2 linked regions of the Homo sapiens genome follow. The protein of the gene in region 2 purifies or fractionates together with the protein of the main gene of each other region. This does not show direct contact. Each region holds a gene or a part of one and is shown on either strand. Other genes may lie near its edges. The genes, in order: RSAD1 and FBLN2.

Region 1 (4,893 bases), on a different chromosome or scaffold from region 2:
TCTTGACCTTAAGTGATCCACCTGCCTCGGCCTCCCAAAGTGCTGGGATTATAGGTGTGAGTCACTGCACCTGGCCTGATGTCTACAACTTTTAAATTATTCAGAAAAAAAATTATACAGACATATTTATCTAAAGATGAAGTAAATGTGGCCAAAAATTAACAATTGATGAATCTATAGGGTAACCACAAAGTATGGAAACTTTTTTTTTTTTTTTTTTGGAAGCAGAGTCTTGCTATGTTGCCCAGGTTGGCCTCAAACCCTTGGGCTCAAGTGATTCTCCCGTCTTGGCCTCCCCAAGTGCTGGGATTATAGGCATGCACCACCCCATCTGGCCTATCATATTTTTCAATAGATTGAAGATGTTCTTGATGGCATTATGAATATTTGCCTATTTCCAGACTTTATAGTTACATAGTAGACAAAGGATATATGGCTTCCAATGAACTATTCTTTTATCTTTTCTGTAGGTCTGAAATCCTTCAAAATAAAATGTAGGGAGCGGGGGAAGGAATCTCAGCCCTAGGCTAAGGTTCTAGTCCCAAAATCAGGATTCCACGCTCTAGGAAGGAGCTCAAAGGAGAGGACCACAGTCAAGACAGGCTCCAGATGTGTTTATTAGGCTATTTAAATAGAACCATGTGACCATTTCTGTAGGTAAAAGGACAAAGAAGAATTACAAACACTTTGGGTCTTTCCCGAATTCTCTCCCCTTTCTCTGGTCAACTCCACCCACCTTCACTCTCAAAGGAAAGGCACAGGGGGAAGGAAGTGAGTGAGGGGGCTCAGAAGAGTCTGTGTGGCTCCTACCACCCCAAACATATTCTGGTTTCCCGAAGATAAGAGGCAAGGCTTGCTCTGATCTTTCCCAGTTCTCAGAGTCCAGCAGGCCGCTGTGCTGGACACATACATGGATCCACCAACATACATCAGTCCTTCTGTGTTCTCTCCTGCATGGTAGAGGCTGGAAGCCTAAGAGCTATATTCCTCAGAATTTCCTGCCAGCCAGGATTTGCTTTAAAGTCCACTAATGAGAGGCACTTCTAGAAACCATGATTCCTTCTCCAGCAGTGGCAGACAGTAGGCATGAGGTTTTGTAGCATCTTCTGAGCATTTTCCAGTACATCATCTGCTTTTGTGCTGCTGGAAGCTGAGACCATCAGCAGGAGTTTTCTGTGCCTCCTGCAAGTTGCTGATTTCTCACAGTTGCTACTGGCTTTCTCCAATGTTCACTTCTCTATCCCTTTCAGTGGTTTATAAATACTTCATTCCTATAGTAGATCCCTTCCTGCTTATATTAATAATACCTAGAGGGGACATGGTTTTCCTGATTCATCCAGCTATCTTAGGACCTTACTCCAAAATAAGGAAGGCTTCTCTTGGGGAGGTAATTGCCTGTAGAAAGATTTCCAAACACTGTTCATTATTTGATGCCAAAAAGGTAAACAGAAGCTGATGTGGGTGGTAGGCAATTCCCAGCCATGGAACACATGTTGGCCTGTGAGTCCTGAGATGCTGAATGGGATGCCAGTTCCCTGACCAGAAATGTCCTCCCATCTACCTCACTGCTGCCATTCCCCTGGGGATGCCAGGGCTGAGCAATAACCACAAGGAGCAGAGACGGCACCCGACAACGGAGAAGAGATGTCTGCAGTACCGACCCAGCTCTCAAAACCCACCTGGCATTACCCTGGAACACAGGAACATTTTTGTCATCCTCCTGGCACAGGGGAGGGGGTTCTCTGCTGCCAGGCTTCTTGGAGCTGAGGCAGGAGGGTCAGCAAGAGAGAGTCCAGCACAGCCAGACCCTCCCAGGAACACCGAAGACCCCTGGAAAACCAAGAGGCCTGAAGGTGACTACTTCATCTTACCAATTTCAAGCCCATCACCCAGCAGGGCCGAGCTCCCAGCACCCGCAGGTCCCGCCTTACCAGTCAGTCTTTCTCACTTCTCCTGGGTCTGTGGAGAGCTGTAGTCAGGGCTCCCTGGTATGCCTCAGCCCCCTCTGCCCGGCACCCCCCAACACACCTGTGATCCAGCTGCAGTAGGCCCCGCTCCAGCAGCTCCTGCACCTCCTTGTTCGCTCCAAACACATCCCACAGGGTCAGCTGGGGCTCAAACTGCTGCCAGTGCTGGGGAAGCCAGAGGGTCAGAGGTGGGGAGCTGGCCTGGCTACTCTGGGCCACATAGTTGGGGTATGGTGAGAGGTGGGGGAGGGTCCAGTTCAGCATGGAGATCTCAGCAGCTGACATGCATGAAAGCAGAACCAGGCCAATGGGCCAGCAGGGAGGAGGGCAGCTTCACTCCTATTCCACTGAGACTGGAACCCAGCTTCCAGCCAAGCCAGGCCTTCCTCTATGCCTCCTCTCTTCCCTCCCCTCTCAGCCAGCTCTAGCCAGGGCTTTATGGCTCTGCTTTATCCAGAGCAGCTCTGGATTTGCTTGATAATTATCTACTGTGCTTCCTATGAGAGGTTTCAGTGCTCCCTAAAAACAAGTGGAAACCCTTTATCTATCTATTGCTTCACAGAGCTCAGAAAATTGAGGTTAAGAGAGGTGAAAGGATTTGTGTCCAAGGTTGCAGTAAAATGAGGGCTGGAACTTGGGTCTCTGCAGCCCTGGTCTAGGGTTCTTAGCTATGCACCACTGCTCACTGCTTCTGCCCATCAGGCCTCAGCTGGACCTGGGCCCCACTTCTAGCTGCCAATCTCACAGAAATTGGAGGTATATGTGTGTGGGGGGGGTGGCAGGGAGGGGGCATTGATTCTGCAAGACTTTAGGAGGGAGTGGTGTGCAAGAATCCTAACTCCTTACCTGGTGAGTGATCCCCACATCGGTGCGTAGCCCCAGGGCCAAAACTTCCTCCAGCCTCAAAGAAAAATCACCAAGGAGTCTTAGAGAGGAGGCCTGTGCTCCTCCCATTCTCCAAATTCTACACTGGGATGCATTTAGAGGAGGCTAACAGGGACCATACAGTATGTGGCAAGGCAGGGGCCAGGACAAGACAGGAAATAAAAGATATACAAATAGACATGGTCTTGGGGTGTGGGGATCCTGGAGGAGAGCCCTGTGCCCTTGGATGCTCACAGCTCCAGCCTGCCCAGGGGGACACGCTTCCGGGTGCCATGGCCAAACAGCATCACCTCCTTCATCCAGTTGTCAGGCTCCAGTGTCTGGATCCGAGCCTCCCGGGTGTGGCCTCCAGCCCCCTGGGGCATAAATCGTCCATGGGCCCCTGACAACATCAACAACCATCCCCACATTAATGGCTGTTAATACTATGTGTTTACCAGATTTAAATCATGTGGTCCCTGGAGCAACTGCCTCTAACATACTGGAAATATAAATTATTTTTCTTTTCTTTTCTTTCTTTCTTTCTTTCTTTTTTTTTTTTTTTTTTTTGAGGTGGTGTCTCACTATACTGCCCAGGCTGGTCTTGGACGCCTGGGGTCAAACGATCTTTCCACCTCAGCTTCCCAAGTAGCTCAGATTAGAGGCACATGACACCAGGCCCTTTTTTCTTTTTCTTTTTTTTTTAATCATCTATCCCAAAATGCCAAGACATATAAATTCTTGGGCTCTCCTCTAGCCCTGTCCAATTGGGAATTCTGAGGGTGGGGCCCAGCAGCTTGGGTTTTAACAAGCCCTCCAGGAGATTCTCATACACACTAAAGGCTGAGAACCCTAGTGCAAGGTGCAACATTAAGCCCCTTATAATTCATGCTCAACAGTTCTATAGGGAGGTATTATTTTTTGCCACATTTTACATATGAGAAAATAGAGGCTTGGAGAGGTTAATGTGGCCCAAGTTCACACAGCCACGACATTCCTCTCCTGAGTCACCCTTTCTGTAGTTCACGGGACTCACCAGGCCCAACGCCAAGGTACTGACCACACTGCCAGTAAGTCCAATTGTGGGTACTGAGCGCCCCCTGCGGGGAGGGAGGAAATAGTGCAGAGTGAAGAGGGCAGGCCTCATTTTTAGACTCAGGTAAGGGGCCCCAGGTTAGAATGTCCCACCATCTCGGCCAGGATCCTTCTCTTCAGAAGGTCACAACGCCCTGGTCACACTGCAGTCTGCCCATCCTCCACCTCCAGCCATCAGCCCCAGAACTTACATTCCGGGCAAAGTTGGAGACCTCATACTGGTGGAAGCCAGCCTCCCGAAGGACAGCCCGGCCCCTCTGGTACATCTCAGCTGCGAGCTCCGGGTCAGGGGCTGGAAGGGCACCCCGCTGCACCTGGGCGAAGAGTGCGGTGCCCCGCTCCAGGGACAGCTGGTAGAGGGAGAGGTGGTCATCACAGTGGTGCAGCAGTTCCTGCAGCTGCCCAAGCCACGGCCCCACCTGCTGTGCCGGCAGCCCCAGCATCAAGTCTACAGACACGCGCCCGGGAAAGAGGCGCCGGGCCTCTGCCAGCGTCCGCAGAGCATCGCAGGCCGAGTGCGTCCGTCCCAACAGCCGGAGCTCAGTGTCATCTAGGGACTGGGAAAAGAGGGTGGGTGTAAGCATACCAGCAGCTCAGAGAGAGACAAGAACCCTCCTCCCCATTGTAGACACAGATACAGGGAGAACGCAGCACGTGGCAGGCAGCTGGAAGGCAGGAGGGGGAAGGTCAAGCTGGCACCAAGAGCTGCCATTCACAGAAGGGTCGCTATGTGCCAAGCACCTTTATGTAGTGTCTAATTTAATCTTTGTAACCCTCCAATATTAGTTCTATTTTACAGATGAGAAAACTGAGGTTCAGAGGTGTTAAGTAACTTGTCCAGGCCATACAGTTGCAAAGTTCGACCTGGAATTTAGGACTGTCTGACTCCAAAATCAAGTCTTTATTTACTTTACTTTTCAATTTTAAATAATTCTAACCTATAGAAAAGTTGAAAGAAAATCACAAA
Region 2 (7,278 bases):
TCATGGAGTGCATGTGCTGAATTCTCACATGGGTACTGCCTTGCAAAGAGGCTGCTCCAGGTGACACTTCGGCCAGTGGCATAAGAATGATAATAATACCACTATCCTAGTGTTTGCCTTCCTGATGGGTGCAAGGGAGAGGCTGCAGTGGTTTTACTTTGTATCTTGTTGTTTCTTGCGTCCCCACCCGGGAGGGCTGGCTTGGTGCAGTGTGACTGCCTGGCTGGCCACCGCAGCCAGTCCCAGGGGCTTTGTTTGCTGGCCAGGCTCTGACTGCTGGGACTGTCCCCCCGCAGGGAGGTCAGGCCTCCTTCCCCACCCCATCTCCAGGGGCTTCTTTTTTCAGGTTGCTGAGGGGTGGGAGCTGTCTGCAGAAGCCGGGGTTGTGGGAAAACTCAGCTGGAGCTCCCAGGAGGGGCATGTTTGATTCTGTGACCCTGCAGTGTAGAGACTGTGCCCTCCTGCTTCTCTCTTGTACGAGTGTCCCCAGCCCTGCTTGCTTATCTCTGGCGATAGATAGGGAGCTCACTCCTTCCCAGCAGCCTGGTCAGTCCCTGCCCTGGAGGGAGTGTTCTCCACTTGGAGCTGACATCTGCCATCTCCTCCATGCCCCCACCTCCCGCCCCACACATACACGCCCCATTGGGAGCAGCTGTGGAGATGTGAGGACAGTGAGGTCTGCTATTCTCCCAGGTGAGCCACCCCAAGGGGCCTGGGCCCCCTCACCACGTGGGCCACTCCCTCTCGACACATCCCAGATGGTCCTTTCCCCTCCTGAGTGGACATACAACCATCAGACAGCACCAGGATACTCTGAGCTGCATGCATTTGGGGGGGCCCAGACGACTTGGGGAACCTGGGAGCTCACACCCCATGTGACATCTCAGGGTGGCCAGAGCTCTGTGGCTTGAAACAGGAGTTGGAAACCTGAATTTTTATGTGAACGTTTTCAATTTATGCATGCTGGTAACCAATTTAAAATGAGAAACCCACTGTGTGAGCCAAACGAAAGCACTTATGGGCCAGATAATGCTGGTGGGCCCCCGACTATGACCTGAGGTATGGTGGAACACGTTCACTGGGTGGATGCAGAACCAGGGCTCAGAGAGGGCCAGGGCCGTGCCTGGGGTTGCGCAGCAAATGTGGAAAATGCAGAGTCAGGCTTGGGCCTGATGTTCTTTATCATTGCCCTGGGCCTGGAGTGGGGAGATGGGCAAGCCTGAGGTTTGGGATTGCTTAAGCATGGACAGAATGTGATGCTGGGGGCCTGGGGGGCCAAGGGGCCAGGTCACCCTGGGGGCTGTGCCGGTGAGCAGAGCAAGGGGATGGACTTGGTGGACCGGGTGGTGGGGCAGGGTGGGCTGGGAAGGAAGTTCTTCTGGAAGAAGTTCTAGGACAGCCCTGTGTCCTGTGGCTGGGGTACTGTCCTCTCAGGACACAACGTTCATGCCTAGGTGTGTGATGCACCTGAAGGCAGGAGGGCAGGGAGCTTGGGTCTCAGTTCACCAAAGATTTCCTTTTGTTTTGAGACGGGGTCTCCCTCTGTTCCCCAGGATGGAGTGCAGTGGCACGATCTCGGCTCACTCCAACCTCCGCCTCCGGGGTTCAAGCAGTTCTCCTGCCTCATCCTCCTGAGTTGCTGGGATTACAGGCACACGCCATCATGCCTGGCTAATTTTTGTATTTCTGGTAGAGACAGGGTTTCACCACGTTGGCCAGGCTGGTCTCGAACTCCTGACCTCAAGTGATCCGCCTGTCTTGGCCTCCCAAAGTGCTGGGATTACAGGCGTGAGCCACCTCGCCTGGCCAAAGATTTCCTTTCTTAAAAGACACTGTCAGCTGGCACGGTGGCTCATGCCTGTAATCCCAGCACTGTAGGAGGCTGAGGCAGGAGGGTCGCTTGAGGTCAAGAGTTCAAGACCAATCTGGGCAACACAGTGAGACCCTTGTTAAAAAAAATTAGCTGGGTGTAGTGGTGTGTGCCTGTAGTTCCACCTACTCAGAAGGCTGAGGTGGGAAGATCGCTTGAGCTCGGGAGGTTGAGGCTGCGATGAGCTATGATCACACAACTGTGCTCTAGCCTGGACAACAGAGTGAGACCCTGTCTCTAAAAACAAACAGAAAGAACTGTTGAGAGTGGACCTGAGGGCCTCTCCCTTGCAGTCTGGAGGGTCCTTGCTTTTGCTGACTGGGAGTAAAGGCCCTGATTCTCCCAGGGGCCCATTCCTAATGTCAGTGGCTTTACGGAGTCCTCCAGCTTCCTGAGGTGGCACCTCAGTGTGAGGGCAGGGGCGTCAGCCCTCGAGGCCCCAGAGGCTCCCTAGCACTCCGCCGGCCCTGAGCCTGGTCTGGGCATGGGCTTCCATCTCCCTGCCCGTCCATGGCCCTCCACCGCAGCCTTCCCTGCCTCGGTCACACAACTCCCCCTTCCAGGCGCTCCTGGACTTCTGTCTTCTGTCCGCTGCATCCTATCCATCAGCAAATCCTGTGGGTCCTACCTTCAAAATAGATCCCCTGTGCCACCATCTCCTGCCTCTCTTCGCTCACTGCCCTGGGCTCTCTCACCTGCTCCCTGCTGGCTCCCGTGTCTCAGCGCAGTGGGCAGCTGGGTGGGTCCCTTGCACTGGAGAGTCCCAGGCTCCAGCGCTTACAGGCACGCCCAGAGGCCCTCACAGCAGGCTGGAAGCCCGTTGCTCTGCAGTTACCACCCGTGTGCTGATGTGGCTCAGCCCTGGGGGCCCTCTCTGTCCTTCACCTTTCTGCTGCTGGTCCGGCCTCAGCCCCTTGGCCCTGCCACTCCCTGCCTGACGCCCTCCTCAGAGAAGCCCTCCTCTTCCGCCGGACTGACACGGGCTCCCCTGACACTGCCACGTCCTCCTTCCGTCTCCTTGATTCCCTTCATTTATTTCATCATGGGGCTCATGCCTGCCTGGCGTTCAGTTCTCTACAGATTTGCTCTTGGGTTTATTATCTGCCCCTCCACCCCTGAGGGTGTCAGTGCTGTGAGGACGCTGGGAACCTGTCTTGCTGGCTGATAAACCCCTGGTTCCTAGAGGGGCTGGGTGCAGAGGAGGCGTTCCTTTAGAAATGGGGCAGGCTTGGGGACCACTGCTGTGGTAACGAGTCCTGCTGTCCCTCTGTCACTGCCCTATGGGGCTGCGCTTTAGGCTGGGAGTCGGAGAAGGAGCTCTTGCCTGTGACTTTGGGGAGCACGCTGTCTATAAGAGTCAGGTACGGCCACTGGGTCACAAGTGGGGCTACAGGCACTGGGGACTTGGGCCAGGGTGGAGGAGGGAGGAGGCATGAGGACTGGTGAGAAGGTGGCATTTGAGTGGCTTGTGCAAGATGAGAGGGGAGAAGAGCCCTTGGGGGAGTTCAGGCCTAAGGGCCTGTGGGAGGGTCGGGTTGGGATGGCTCCTGCAGGGCCTTGAGTGCCAGGCTCAGCTGGGAATCCAGACCTTTCCTTTCTGGCCATGGGAAACTGGGGCGGGCTGTGGGGCCGTGGCATGTCGGGGCCAGCTGCTCTCAGGCCAGACTGGGTTCCCTGGGAAAGGGGAGGAGTGGTGGGCAGGGAGGTGGCGGGGCTGTTCCAGTGGAGATCAGAGCTGAGACTGGAGTGGGGACAGGGCCTAGAGATGGAAGGAAGGGGTAGAGACCGTGGGGAGGGAGTGGAGACAGATTGCGGGGAGAATGGACATGACTGGGGGAGTTGGTGGGGTGTTAGGGACAGCAAGGCATCAGGATGCATTTGCCAGTGCTACTGGGGAGGGGGACAGGAGCGTCCCCTGGGGCTAAGCCTGCAGTCCCGAGGGTCTCAGAGGTGTGTTCCTGAGTCCTAGGGTCTGCGGGCTGGGGCTGTAGGGGGCGTCTTGTTCTTGCCTAGCATTTCCCCACTGACTGTATTTTCTGGCCAGCAGCTGTGGTGCGTGGCTGGGGACTGAGTCAAGGATCTGGGGGGAGGGATTGGTCGGGTGTGTGCGTGGGACTGTGCGTGTGAGACCGCCCAGGGTGTGTACTGGCACGTGGGCATGCTGTGGGTGAGACAGCGTGTGTAACTGCATAGAGGATTATGGGGCATATTGCCTGACGTGCCCTGGTGAGTGTGACCGAGTGGGTGTGGGGCTGTGCATGTGTGTGTGTGGGCACGAGGGCTCACTCAGAGGACCTGCCTCAGAATGCAGGTGAGGATGGAGGATGGAGTGGCCCAGCAAACACGTGTGGGGCTGTCAGCGACTCCAGGTCAACACCTGTGGCGCCCAGCGACTAGACACTCACCTGTGTGTGATCTGACCCATGTGTGGCGGAGCCTGTGTGTGTGTGTGAGGCAGTGCTTAGTGTGCTCCTGGGGATGAGCGCATGCGTGTGAGGTGGCTGAGGCTGGGCCCCTGCCCGCGTGCGTGCCGGTGTGCACCGTGTCTGTGTGTGCACACCCAGTACTGACAGGCTTCCTTTCTGATTCCCCCAGGGTCTTACAGGAGAGGGGACCGTCCTGGGCTGGCCTGGACCATGGTGCTGCTCTGGGAGCCTGCAGGAGCCTGGCTTGCTCTGGGCCTGGCCCTGGCCCTGGGCCCCAGCGTGGCCGCAGCTGCCCCTCGGCAGGACTGCACGGGCGTGGAGTGCCCGCCGCTGGAGAACTGCATTGAGGAGGCGCTGGAGCCGGGTGCCTGCTGTGCCACGTGTGTGCAGCAGGGCTGCGCCTGCGAGGGCTACCAGTACTATGACTGCCTACAGGGTGGCTTCGTGCGCGGCCGCGTGCCCGCCGGTCAGTCCTATTTTGTGGACTTCGGGAGCACTGAGTGCTCCTGCCCACCAGGCGGCGGCAAGATCAGCTGCCAGTTCATGCTGTGCCCGGAGCTGCCGCCCAACTGCATCGAGGCTGTAGTGGTGGCTGACAGCTGCCCACAGTGCGGCCAGGTGGGCTGCGTCCACGCGGGCCACAAGTACGCCGCTGGCCACACTGTTCACCTGCCGCCCTGCCGGGCCTGCCACTGCCCTGACGCCGGTGGAGAGCTCATCTGCTACCAGCTCCCCGGTTGCCACGGGAACTTCTCAGATGCCGAGGAGGGTGACCCCGAGCGACACTACGAAGACCCCTACAGCTATGACCAGGAGGTGGCCGAGGTGGAAGCAGCAACAGCCCTGGGGGGTGAGGTCCAGGCGGGTGCAGTCCAGGCAGGCGCAGGGGGCCCCCCAGCTGCTCTGGGAGGTGGGAGTCAGCCACTGTCCACCATCCAGGCACCCCCCTGGCCAGCTGTCCTCCCCAGGCCCACAGCGGCTGCTGCCCTGGGTCCCCCAGCCCCAGTGCAGGCCAAAGCTAGGAGAGTGACCGAGGACAGTGAGGAGGAAGAAGAGGAGGAGGAGGAGAGAGAGGAAATGGCTGTCACTGAGCAGCTGGCAGCAGGTGGCCACAGGGGGCTGGATGGGCTGCCCACTACAGCCCCAGCTGGACCCAGTCTTCCTATCCAGGAGGAGAGGGCAGAAGCTGGGGCAAGGGCAGAAGCTGGGGCAAGGCCTGAAGAGAACCTCATCCTGGATGCCCAAGCCACGTCCCGCAGCACTGGGCCGGAGGGCGTGACGCATGCACCGAGCCTGGGCAAGGCTGCTCTCGTCCCAACTCAGGCCGTGCCTGGCTCTCCCAGGGACCCAGTCAAGCCCAGCCCCCACAACATCCTGTCCACATCACTGCCTGATGCAGCCTGGATCCCACCCACCCGAGAAGTGCCCAGGAAGCCGCAAGTTCTGCCCCATTCCCACGTGGAGGAGGACACAGACCCCAACTCTGTCCATTCTATCCCCAGAAGTAGCCCTGAAGGTAAGACCCTGTCCTGGTTCCTTCAGGGCACTTTGTGTGGGAAGGGCAGCCTTGGGCTCTGGCCGCTGCCCCAGGTCTCTGCCTGGGGCTGGGGATGCTGGACTGTGGGGCCAGGCCTAGGGTGGCCACCCCAGGCCCTTGGTTTGGGCAGGAGGCTGTGAGAGTGCATCTTCTCCCAGGCCCAGCTCTTGGGATGGGATGGGTGGGTGGGAGTGGGGTTCCTGTTGTGGGAGGTGCTGGGCCCCCTGGTAGGGCTGCGGTAGTGGTCAAGGGTCCAGAAGGTGCACATCTTCAGAGCTGGGGGCCCTGAGGAGGGTTCCTGCCTCAGCCCGGTAGGCCCCCACGTGTCCTGGCAGGAAATGCGAAGGGCGGTCTCTTCTCAGCTGCCCCGGTGGCTGGCCTGTGGCCTAGGAGCCTAGCATGGCCACCTCTGCCAATTTTTCAACAAATGTCAGCCAGAAAGCTGAATTTTATGTGACATCTTCCCATTTCTAAGTGTCTGCAGCAAATCCTAATCTCACAAGCATGTGTTGTAGAAAGAAGTGAACTCGTGGACAGAGGCGAGGTGGGTGGGCCATTTGAGCAGGGGCGCTGGCCATGCTGGGCCAGTGGAGGTGGTGGGGCCACACCAGCTGTACCCTCACTCCATGGAGGCCCCTCTCCGAGCTGGTCAGGCAGCTTCCCATCAGTCCTTCCAGCAGCACCGAGTGCTTACTACTATGTACGCTGTTTCACCAGTGAGGCAACTGGGGCTCGAGGGTGGTGCTGGAGGCTCAGGTCACACAACCAGTGAGCAGTGGGCCTGGAAGGCCCTGGAGCCTGCACTCCTGACCCTATATCCTCCAAGCCACCTGCCACAGAGTTCAATACACTCCATCGGGCACATCAGAGCAGGCAGCCAGGACCAGGGCACCCAGGCTTCAGATAGGGACCGGCCCAAGGCTGTGCAGAGGCTGGTAGGCGGCCCAGGCCTCTTCTTGCCCATCCATGCCTGCTCCCAGCAGGTCCTCCATAGCCCAGCACAGTCAGACACCCCATTTGAAGACCCCATGAGCTGTGGCGAGAAGGGGAATGGTCCGCTGAGCCTACCTAAGAGCCGTCCTCAAAGGGCGCTGCTGCTAAGCAGGGGCCACAGCCCCCACGAGGCTGACCCCTTCCTGCTTACTTTAGGAGCCTTGAACTCCTGCAGGGGGTGATTCTGTCACAAGAGCTGGGGGCTTGCAGATCCAGAAGCCTGGTCTAGCTTCCATGGGGACCTGGGGTGATGCTCCTAAGACCCCACGCAGGTTTGAAACCCCCGTGGGCCAACACTGGAGAGGAGAGGCTTCAGGAGTCCTCTAGCAAACAGGTTAATCTGGGTGGATAACCCTGTGCTGCCACAGCCTAGGGAATCTGGGGGCCTCACAGACCCACAGACATTGGAAAGGCCCAGAGCTCCGTCAGTGTGAGAGGGGACAGCCCCGCAC

What was found.
Region 1: the proteins of FBLN2 (region 2) and RSAD1 purify together in Homo sapiens (co-immunoprecipitation; 2 studies listed by BioGRID and IntAct, with this or other methods). This does not show direct contact.

Annotation. Positions count from the first base shown.
Region 1 is NC_000017.11:50,481,681-50,486,573, reverse strand, and holds the end of RSAD1 (radical S-adenosyl methionine domain-containing protein 1, mitochondrial precursor), read right to left. Parts: intron 4,484-4,893; coding exon 4,118-4,483; intron 3,932-4,117; coding exon 3,868-3,931; intron 3,235-3,867; coding exon 3,087-3,234; intron 2,869-3,086; coding exon 2,814-2,868; intron 2,133-2,813; coding exon 2,029-2,132; exon of another isoform or gene 1,932-2,028; intron 1,831-1,931; coding exon 1,713-1,830; 3' UTR 600-1,712; downstream 1-599.
Region 2 is NC_000003.12:13,565,850-13,573,127, forward strand, and holds part of FBLN2 (fibulin-2 isoform a precursor), read left to right. Parts: intron 1-2,890; exon of another isoform or gene 2,891-3,231; intron 3,232-4,465; 5' UTR 4,466-4,506; coding exon 4,507-5,812; intron 5,813-7,278. UniProt on the Homo sapiens protein: Its binding to fibronectin and some other ligands is calcium dependent. May act as an adapter that mediates the interaction between FBN1 and ELN.